Linked DNA regions of Homo sapiens: region 2 is linked to region 1. Evidence: fine-mapped expression QTL. A gene starts in region 1. The other region holds a variant in brackets. All regions are shown on one strand. Distances are between the middles of the regions. Region 1 holds the start of IL6R (interleukin 6 receptor). Region 2 overlaps IL6R (interleukin 6 receptor).

Region 1 (5,459 bases):
CAGGATTTACCCATGACCATTTTCAGGCTCCTTTTAGGGTGGAGTCTGCATAGCTGATCCTACACAGGCCTCACAGGCTCTACACCGACTCAAGAAATGTTTGCTGCAATGAATAAACAAGCAGCAAGCCAAAGCAAGGAGAGATTTCTGGCAACAGAGAGCCCGAAGCGGGAGGGCCTTCATTCAGTTCCTCAATGACACCATTTAGGCAGCCGTCCTCAAACCTGACAGTGCCTAAGAATCACAAGGGGCAGTTTGTTTAAAAGGACATGCCCCAGGCCTCACTCCTAGGTGTTCTTATTTAATAAATCTGGGTTAGGGTTCAAAAATCATCATGTTTACCAAAGCCCTCCCACCCAGCACACACACCAGATCTGATGCTAGGCTCAGAACTAAGCTTTTGAGAAATACTGATTTAGGGTGAGGCTAGGCACGTGTGTGGGTAATGGGGGCAGGAAGAGGTGCCCTAGAAGGAAATTCAGAAGCTGAGATAGCTCTTTGAGATACTTAAAGGTATACATACTTCTTTTGTGTATTTTCTTGCATTGCAGTAGGAAGAGGGAACTTGAGTCACCCAAGTCCAGCCTTCCAGCACCAGAGTGTTGGAACCGGCAGAAGCCTAAGTCCCAGCTAGTCCAGGCCCTTAGACAACGAGTACACCTGAGAAGTCCTGGCAGCTCCAGGGTGTGTGGGCGGCAGCTGATCCCGAGGAAAACAAACCTCTGGGCTCTAAGAGCCCCGCAGGCTGTACCTGCGGATTTCCCCTCTCAGCCAACTCCAGCCTCTGCTCCCCCTCTGCTCCTCACTTCTCTAAAGCGAAACATCTCACAGTCATTTGCTCCATGCTTCCTGTACGATTTCTTTATTTTTACTCTCCAGTTTGTGGGCTGAGTCTGTGTGGGTGTGGGAGAGGGGCTGGGTATTTCTACTTCTCTGCATTTTCCTTCTGAGCTGGGAGGACTTTCACTTCCTCCCCAGTCTCTCAGTTCTGCCTTTCATGGGCTGTTCAGGCCATGAGACCACCTCTCCTAATCCTTCCTGAGCACCAGGGAAATGGAAAACTGACTGTAACTGGCTGCCCTGGAAGGGCCTAGCATCCACTCAGGAGCAACAGGTGGTGGCAACTACAGCAGTAACAGTAACCTCCCTGGGGCAGGAGCCTTGGGCTGGCGTGACAGCAGCAGAGGCAGCCAAGGGAGCCCTGCTTGCTCCTGAGGCCATCCGAGCCCTGGAACCTGTCTTGCATCCCTCTAACACCACCATGGGCAAGCCTGGGCCTCCACTTCCCTCCCTCAGCCTTTTCTGTCCCAGCACTCAGCCAGACAAGAGTGACTCTCAGCTTGCCCCAATGCCCCCAGCTCTGCCTGCTGATCTAGTTCTATATTTGAGAGTCTTAGACATCTACCACACTGGAGCACAGAGCCACGGGAGGGGTTGGCCTCCATCACCGGGGCCTGACAACCTGCCATCCCGCCATCCCAACCTCCCTGAACCTCAGTCTCCTCTTTCAAACAAAGTTATATGTAGATACAGTGGAGGATTAGAAAACATTGAATGGGTGCCCCAATCAACAGTGTCTGTTACTGGCAGGAGTTATAAATGTGTATTGAAAATGGAATCCCTTCTTTTTTTCTTCCAATCATAAGGACCACAACCATCCAAAAAGCAAAGAGAGCCTCAGACACTCCAGCTCAGCCTCTAGTTGCAGAAAGTCACCTCCTCAAAGGGAGAGATCAGTGTTCACCTAGGACTGGAATTCAGTGTGATCTAGTGGTTGAAAGTCTTAGCCTTCAGCCTCCCCAGCCTGTCAGCTGTTCCAGAAGCCTGTCAGCTGCCCCTTAGTTTTCTGCTGTGTCCTCAAAGAAGCACTGGGACCCTAAAATAAACCTCTGGAGAGCCAGTTGCCCAACTCTTCCAGAAGAGAGACTAGACACGCAGCTGGGCATGCGGCCAGAGCCCAAGAAAAGCCTGGTTTGCCAGGGGCAGATTACAGTCAACGGGAGCAGTAAGTGCCTCTGCCCTCTCCCTCACGGGTCCTTCTCTTTTCTAGAGGGGAGTCCAGCACGTGCCAGCCCCAGGAGGTCTCACTCCCTTGCCAGCCTCCCGACTCAATTCCCAGGACTGGGGCACTTGGCTTCCCAGAGTTGGTGGCTGCCAAAGTGACTCCGTGCAGCGGGAAGATCCGTGACTCAGCGCCCGTGATGTCAGTCCCTTCATAGTCAGGGCACTGTCATCCACACATGCACCCGCGGGGGTGGGGGGAGGACCAGGCGAGGTGGACCCCCAATGCAGAGGGAGAAGAGGGGCGCTGGTACAAAGGACTCCCCAGGCGGGTACATCACCCCGCTGGGGCGCGCCCTCTCGGGCAGTCTCCCCTTAGAGTAACCTGGGACGCGGTTGTGTAAAGGCTCCTGGGGGCACTGGGAAGGAAGCTCGAGAGTCAGGTTTGCAAGGACACAGTCCTGTACACAGACCGCAGGGTTCCCGCACAGCTTCACCGGGCATTCCGGGGAGCGCTCCGGACCAAGGGAGCAAGCGCAGCAGGGGGCGCAAGAGCCACTACCCGCGACCACACAGCTAGGTACCCGCGGGGCCTCAAGGCAGCCACAGAAAAGGGGATCCGTCGCACCTCCTTTCCTCCCTCCAGCCTCCCACAGACTGCGGTGACCAAGGCGGTTTCCCCCAGCCGCTAGCTGCCCCAGCCCTCCAGGTGCGCCCGAAGCCCTTACCCTGCGCAGGGCAGCGCCTTGGGGCCAGCGCCGCTCCCGGCGCGGCCAGCAGGGCAGCCAGCAGCGCGCAGCCGACGGCCAGCATGCTTCCTCCTCGGCTACCACTCCATGGTCCCGCAGAGGCGGACAGGCTAATGGGAACCGGGCGGCAGGGGTGGCAGGGGCGGGGCGGGGCGGTGGGCGGGCAGGCGGGCTCAGGCCCCGGGGGCAGCCCCCATCCGCAGGAGCCCGGCTCTCTACACACACTGCGAGTCCCTCGGCCCCGCGCCGCGCTCGGCTCCTCTCCCTCTGGCCCGGCTCAGTGTCAGTGCGACTTCCCACTCGCACATGACTCAGAGCGGCGGACGGTCCTGGCAACGCAGGAAAACATTTGAGGAACTCGCGCTGGAGCGTCTCTGGGCCGTCCCAGGGTGCGGTTACGAAAGCCGGAGCGGATGGCGCAACAGCCCCGCGCACCGGCCGACCGAGGGGGTGGCTTCCTGCCACAGCGCCGCACCTGAGCGGGGAGAACAGGGGACCGCCAGCCCCACCAGAGCCCTTCCTCCCGGTTCTGTTGATGAGAAAAGGGCGTATCAGCCACCAGTGGGCAGTGGCCTAGTTTTGATTTTTGGTTTCGTGAACGGGATTACGCTGTGAAAGGCACACCTGGAGAGCCCTCGAGGAGGCGATGTTCCTCTTACCCTTAGGGTAAAACAGTGCTTGGTAGCCCGGTTGCCCACTGGAATCAGCCAGGAGCCCTAAAACCCACCAATGTCTGGGTCGGGTCTCCAGAGATTCTGATTTCATCGGTCTGGGGTGAGGCTTGGGCATCGGAAGACTCACCACCGTAAAGGCACAGTCTTTCTGCCCAGCTGCTCCTCGCAGGCTGCAGCAGAGGCAAGGAAACGGTTTGGACTTTGCAGTCAGATAGACCTGGGTCCCCATTTAGACCTACCATCTACTGTGTCTGTGACTTCGGTTCAGAATCTGAGTCTCCATTTCCTCATCTGTCAGAGATAAGAAAGCCTATGCTGCCCAGGGTTATTAGGAAGGTTCTGTGGATGGCACCTAAACACCTGACACACGGTCTGGGCCACACGTGCTCAGTAGACATCAGAACGTTCATGGCTGCCCTCCTGACTTGACAGACAGACACTAACACCAGGGGCAGTGGCTCACGCCTGTAACCCCAACACTTTGGGAGAGCCGGGTGGGTGGATTGCTTCAGTCCAGGAATTCTAGACCAGCCTGTGTAACAAAGTGAGACCCCCATTTCTATAAAAAAATTTAAAAATTAGCTGGGTGTGGTGGTACACACCTATAGTCCCAGCTACTAGGGAAGCTGAGGTGGGAAAATTGCTTGAGTCCGGGAGATCCAGGGTACAGTGAGCCGTGATTGGGGGCTGCTACTCCAGCCTGGATGACAGTGAGACCCTGTCTGGAAAGAAAAAAAAAAAAAGAAAAGAAAGAAAGAAAAGGAAGGGAGGAGGGAGGGAGGGAGGGAAGGAGGGATAGAGGGGAAGGAAGGAAAGGAAGGAGAGAAAAAAAGAAAGAAACAAGCACCTGGCTTTTGAGCAACCACAAGGACCTTGAAGGGGACCATCTGTCCGTCCCTTGGAGGGGAACTCTCTCAAGGACCCCCACAGAGCCTAAAGCTGATAGGATGGCCTCATAGCTGAATCTGGAGGGAAAGAAAAATGCTGAAATAAAGTTTAGGCTGAGAAGCTTCTAGACCAGCAACTGCTCATTAGAATGTGTTTTTCTACCTTTGGTTTCAGGCCAATCCTAACCCAGATCAAAGATCCTGGGACAGCTGGAACAGGCATGGCCTAATGGAACTCCCAAGTGGACAGGGCCAGGCATGGACGGACAGAGCTTCTGAAACAGTCCTCAGACCCCGTGCATCTGGATCTTTCTGTAGGAACCACCCATCAGCAGTGCCAGACAGAACCAAGCACATGCACTGATCCACCGCACGATGGGAGCTGGTGTGGGTGAGCTTGTTTGCTTTAGCCATGCCCACAGACAGGAACAGAAGAGCACAGTGGAGGCCACCAGCCCTCTCGCCTGCTATTTCAAAAGGGGTTGCAGCAGGGCTGGAAAGCGGTTCCCACTGTGGTTGCCCCCTTCCTCTCTGTGGCACACACAGACCTGAAAATAACCAGAGAGGGACTGTGAGCTGCCAGCCTAAAACAGGAAGGCTGCAGAAAGTCCTAGGCTCAGATAGGAGAGTTTAAAAGAATGTTGAAACCAAGAACGGGCATCACAGATCCCACCTGTCTCTGCACCAAAGCAGACCTCCCCCTCTCTAATCTACTGGTGGGGAGCCTGTGTGCTCTGTAGTCATGCAGATCCCAGCTTTACCACTTGCTGGCTGTGTGACTTAAGCAAGCTATTTAACTTCTCTGAACCCCTATTTCCTGATTTGTAAGATAAGCGCAGCAATATACAAAGTTTTAGTGTTGTGGTTCACATGAAAAAATTTAATCCTGGCCAGGCCGGACGTGGTGCCTCACACCTGTAATTCCAGCACTTTGGGAGGCCAAGGTGGGCAGATCATGAGGTCAGGAGTTCGAGACCAGCCTGACCAACATGGTAAAACCACATCTCTACTAAAAATACAAAAATTAGCCGGGCATGGTGGTGCGTACCGGTAGTCCCAGCTACTCAGGAGGCTGAGGCAGGAGAATCACTTGAACCCAGGAGGCGGAGGTTGCAGTGAACCGAGATGGCACCACTGCACTCCAGCCT
Region 2 (5,000 bases), 41 kb before region 1:
AGAGAAGATGCTCAGTGGATACACTGAAGCAGCTGTTGTCCTTACAGGTCCGATGCAAGGATGCAGGTACTACCATGACTGGAATGCTGGTTCCACCACTTACGAGCTATGTCACCTTGGACAGACTTCTTTTTTTTTGTTTGTTTTTTTGTGAAATGGAGTTTCACTCTTGTTGCCCAAGCTGGAGTGCAATGGCATGATCTCGGCTCACTGCAACCTCCGCCTCCCAGGTTCAAGCGATTCTCCTGCCTCAGCCTATCAAATAGCTGGGATTACAGGCATGCGCCACCACACCCAGCTAATTTTGTATTTCAGTAGAGAAAGGGTTTCTCCATGTTGGTCAGGATGGTCTTGAACTCCTGACCTCAGGTGATCTGCCTGCCTCAGCCTCCCAAAGTGCTGGGATTACAGGTGTGAGCCCCTGTGCCCGGCCCTGGCCTCAGACTTAACTCACGTTAAGAAGCCCTACAAGGCCGGGCGCGGTGGCTCACGCGTGTAATCCCAGCACTTTGGGAGGCCGAGGCGGGTGGATCATGAGGTCAGGAGATCGAGACCATCCTGGCTAACAAGGTGAAACCCCGTCTCTACTAAAAATACAAAAAAAATTAGCCAGGCGCGGTCGCGGGCGCCTGTAGTCCCAGCTACTCGGGAGGCTGAGGCAGGAGAATGGCGTGAACCCGGGAAACGGAGCTTGCAGTGAGCCAAGATTGCGCCACTGCAGTCCGCAGTCCCACCTGGGCGACAGAGCGAGACTCCGTCTCAAAAAAAAAAAAAAAAAAAAAAAAAAAAAGCCCTTACAAGCACTCCCTTGCAATGTTAACATAAGGAGCCAATGAAACAGCAAATGCAAGGCTCACAGTTTAGCAGGATGTGGCCAGTCCTCAGTCGGTGTCAGTTTCCCCAGAACCCGTGTTGGGAGCACTCTAGCCCCATGGGTATGGGCTTCACCTGCAGCTGTTCCTACATGGAACACAGATAAGGTTCAAGAGCCCCAGGCTCCTTCCCTGTGCCGCACAGCTCCAGAAGTGGCTATGACTCCCAGCTTAGCATTTAGGGAATTAAGGGCCACAGGAGGAGATATAGTTGGATAGGAAATTGGATTACTCAAGGAATTTGTTAAGCAGCTTCAGAGGTAATCCTCTTTCCAGCAAATTATGTCACCAAGAGTCCACAGGGGAAGGATGCAGATAAACAGAATCCAATCTCAAGCTAAGCCATTAGCGTTGTCCAAAAAGCTCAGAGATGAAATAGCAGCTGCTAGACGCAGAGCAGTTCTGCACGCCAGGCCAGCGCTGCTCCACTCCTTACAGTCCTGGGACAAGATAATTTCTATGATTCCCTTTCACAGAGGTTTGAAAAGCACAGGTAACTCACCACGACCACATTTCTACTAGTGACAGAACTGGATTTAAACCAAATTCGGTCTGGCATCAGCCCACACTCCTAAACACGAGGTGCTGCAGCCCTGACCCTTTTACAAGAACAGGAGCTCACCTGCATGGGGGTGGACACCTCGTTCTCAGCTGGAGGACTCCTGGATTCTGCGGACAGAAGAAAGGCTCATTATTAGTGATTCATGGGCCCTGGAGTCCTGTCTCAGGGGCTTCAGCATCAGAAAAAAAAAGTTCATCTCAATGTTATTTAAAAGAACAGCATGGGCTGGGCGCGGTGGCTCACGTCTGTCATCCCAGCACTTTGGGAGGATGGGTAGATCACCTGAGGTTAGGAGTTCGAGACCACCCTGACCAACATGGAGAAACCCTGTCTCTACTAAAAATACAAAATTAGCTGGGTGTGCTGGCACATGCCTGTAATCCCAGCTACTCGGGAGGCTGAGGCAGGAGAATCGTTTGAACCCGGGAGGCGGAGGTTGCAGTGAGCCGAGATCATGCCATTGCACTCCAGCATGGGCAATAAGAGCAAAACTCCGTCTCAAAAACAAAACAAAACAAAACAAAACAAAACAAAACAAAACAAAAAACAGCATGCTGGAAATAACCAAATATCCAACCGTAAGGGACTAGCTGTAGAAATTATGACATAACTACATAATGCAGAAACTTTTAAAATTTATTTTATATATATATATGTATGTGTATATATATATATGTGTATGTGTATATATATGTATGTGTATATATATGTATGTGTGTATATATATATGTGTGTGTGTGTGTGTGTGTGTGTGTATATATATATATATATATATATTTTTTTTTTTTTTTTTGAGATGGAGTTTCACTCTTTTGCCCAGGCTGGAGTGAAGTGGCATAATCTCGGCTCACTGCAACCTCCACCTACTGGGTTCAAGCGATTCTTCTTCCTCAGCCTCCCAAGTAGTTGGGATTATAGGCGCCCACCACCACACCCAGCTAATTTTTGTATTTTTAGTAGAGACAGGGTTTCACCATATTGGCCAGGCTGGTCTTGAACTCCTGACCTCAGGTGATCTATCCGCTTTGGCCTCCCAAAGTGCTAGGATTACAGGCATGAGCTACCGTGCCTGGCCAATTATTATATATTTTTTGAGACAGGGTCTCGCTCCGTCGCCAGGCTGGAGTGCAGTGGCATGATGATGGCTCACTGTAGCTTTAACTTCTGGGCTTCAGTGATCCTCCCATCTCAGCTTCCCAAGTATCTGGGACTACAGGCGTGTGCCACCACGTCTGGCCAAAAATATTTTAGAAAAACATTGAAGACATGACATAATGCTGTATGAAGAATGCAAGACAAGAAAAATTCTATGTATTTTGATTCAAACTTTCTAAAGAAATATATTTTTATGATTATTGTGTAACACAGTATATATCATAATACTATATATTTGCACACAGGAAGAAGAAAATGGAAAGATACACATCACCAGAGATAAGCACTATTTCAATTTCCTTCTATGCACCTTTTTGCAATAAAAAATATATAACAAATAAATATTCATTTGCCTGTATGGGTTTAGTACACATTGCAGCAGCAGGGATGTGGACCAGGCACCCTCACGGCTCCCTCCC[C/G]CTGCACGGGAACAGTGTTTCTGCGGAAACCCCAAGGCAAGAGGAGGCTAAGTATCCAAGCGAAAGCCTGGGCCTTAACCGTAACAGGCAGTGAGTGGAATGCTCTGGATTTCAAAACATTTTCTTGTCAGCTCATCATTTTTCCATCAAGAATTCTAAAATTCCACAGAATGGTTTAAACAAAAATCACGAGCCTCGCTGGGCCAGGAGTAAGGACTAGCAAGGAGGCGGGGAGAGGGTGACCCTGCTTCGGCGTCAGGGAGGGTTTCCAGAATTCCTGGAGTATGCCATCACCAGTAAGGGGGAAACCACACACCAGCAGCACCAGAGGAAGTATAAGAATGCATCCACTCTTCCAATTGTACAGAGGGGAAACAGAGGCCCGGAGAGGGAAAGCGACTTGTTCAAGGCCGCACAGCAAGTGCGACCTGAATTGAACCTAGAATTCATGGGAGGGACCCAGTTTATTGTTCCTTTGCGTTCTTCCCAGCCCAGCAGAGGACAGTTACACACTTATAGCCCAGGGTATCTAAAGGATGACCTGAGGGCATGGAGGCACTAGAATGAAAGCTAAAATCAGAAGACAAAGAAGATGGGGGCAGGCCGGACTCACACCTGTAATCCCAGCACTTTGGGAGACTGAGGCTGGAGAATCCCATGAGGCCAGGAGTTTGAAACCAGCCTGGGTAACATAGTGAGACCTCATCTCTAAAAAAAAAAGAAGAAAACAAGAAGAAGATGGGGCAGCCCTAAATAGAAAATATGGCTGCCCATGGATGCTCGTGCAGTTCAGCAGTTTTCCAAACCCCGCCAGAGTCAGCTTCGTCTGGAGCCTTGAAGGCTCCACCTTGCTTGTTGCCTCAGAACCATGGAAATGGGACCCAGTCATTAGGGCTTTTTTTTTTTTTGAGACCGAGTCTCGCTCTGTCGCCTGGGCTGGAGTGCTGTGGCGCAAACTCAGCTCACTGCAAGCTCCGCCTCCTGGGTTCAAGCCATTCTCCTGCCTCAGCCTCCTGAGTAGCTGGGACTACAGGCGCCCACCACCACACCCGCCTAATTTTTTGTATTTTTAGTAGAGACGGGGTTTCACCGTGTTAGCCAGGATGGTCTTGATCTCCTGACCTGGTGATCCGCCCGCCTCAGCCTCCCAAAGTACTGAGATTACAGGTGTGAGCCACCGCGCCCAGCTGTCATTAGGGTTTTTTAAAGGCTCCCCATACTATACTCAAGACAGATGCTTCAGGAAGAAAGTTTCTACTCTCAGTCCTGACCCCCAACACAGCCTGTGGCCCAGAGAATGCCCAGTAACCTCTGGCGGCTCAGGTTTCTGGGGTTAAAGTGGTAATGAACCACAAAGCCACAGGAAGAGGGGAGGAGAGACCGTGGGACCCACAGGCTCAGTGGCGCCAGGCAGCTCCTGCGTGCTGAGCAAGGGGACCCTACTTCACACCTTTCCTCGCAGCCTTTAAACCACCCAACAGACAGCTCATCACTGCTCCTCTATTCGTGTAGAAACAAATAAATAAACCTCACTGAGGAGCCTCCTGAGGAGAAATGACTCACCTCCAGCTGGGTCCCAAATGCCACCCGGGATGGTCTGTGGAGAGAAGCCTAGTGGAGACAAGTACAGAAAAGGCTGTGTGTACAAATCTCCACAGTGTCTGGGTGCCAAAAGCGCCCCTCATTTTGAGGTTTCACCCTTCCTCATTTGGGGGGGGCGGGTGTGGGGGGCAGTTAAGGAGTCTTTTTGTTGTTAAGACAGGGTCTCCCTCTGTTGCCCAGGCTGGAGTGCAGTAGTGCAATCATAGCTCATTGCAGCCTCCAACTGCTGGGCTCAGGTGATCCTTCCACCTCAGCCTCCCACTTAGCTAGGACTACAGGTGTGCACTGCTATGCCCAACTAATTTTTTTTTAACTTTTTTTTGTAAAGACAGGGTCTCCTTATGGTGCCCGGCTGGTCTCTATCTCCTGGGCTCAGGCAATCCTCCCCCA

What was found. PIP is the estimated chance that this variant, and not a neighbour inherited with it, causes the effect.
Region 2: its variant is the best candidate, but not a certain one, in a credible set for the expression of IL6R in whole blood (TOPMed, PIP 0.56).

Annotation. Positions count from the first base shown.
Region 1 is chr1:154,402,985-154,408,443 of GRCh38, reverse strand. It overlaps IL6R (interleukin 6 receptor), which reads right to left and starts at 3,101. Exons shown (of 10, transcript NM_000565.4): 1 at 2,730-3,101. The coding sequence starts at 2,814. IL6R-AS1 (IL6R antisense RNA 1) reads left to right here and starts at 1,880. Exons shown (of 2, transcript NR_147855.1): 1 at 1,880-2,005; 2 at 4,487-5,459. RefSeq lists an enhancer at 1,971-2,577 and silencers at 2,817-2,966, 3,167-3,296.
Region 2 is chr1:154,444,666-154,449,665 of GRCh38, reverse strand. IL6R (interleukin 6 receptor) reads right to left here. Exons shown (of 10, transcript NM_000565.4): 7 at 1,495-1,541. Among named protein-coding and RNA genes, the nearest start is that of IL6R-AS1, 41 kb to the right of the region's middle. RefSeq lists an enhancer at 3,882-4,381. The variant C/G (reference allele first, on the strand shown) is at 3,009.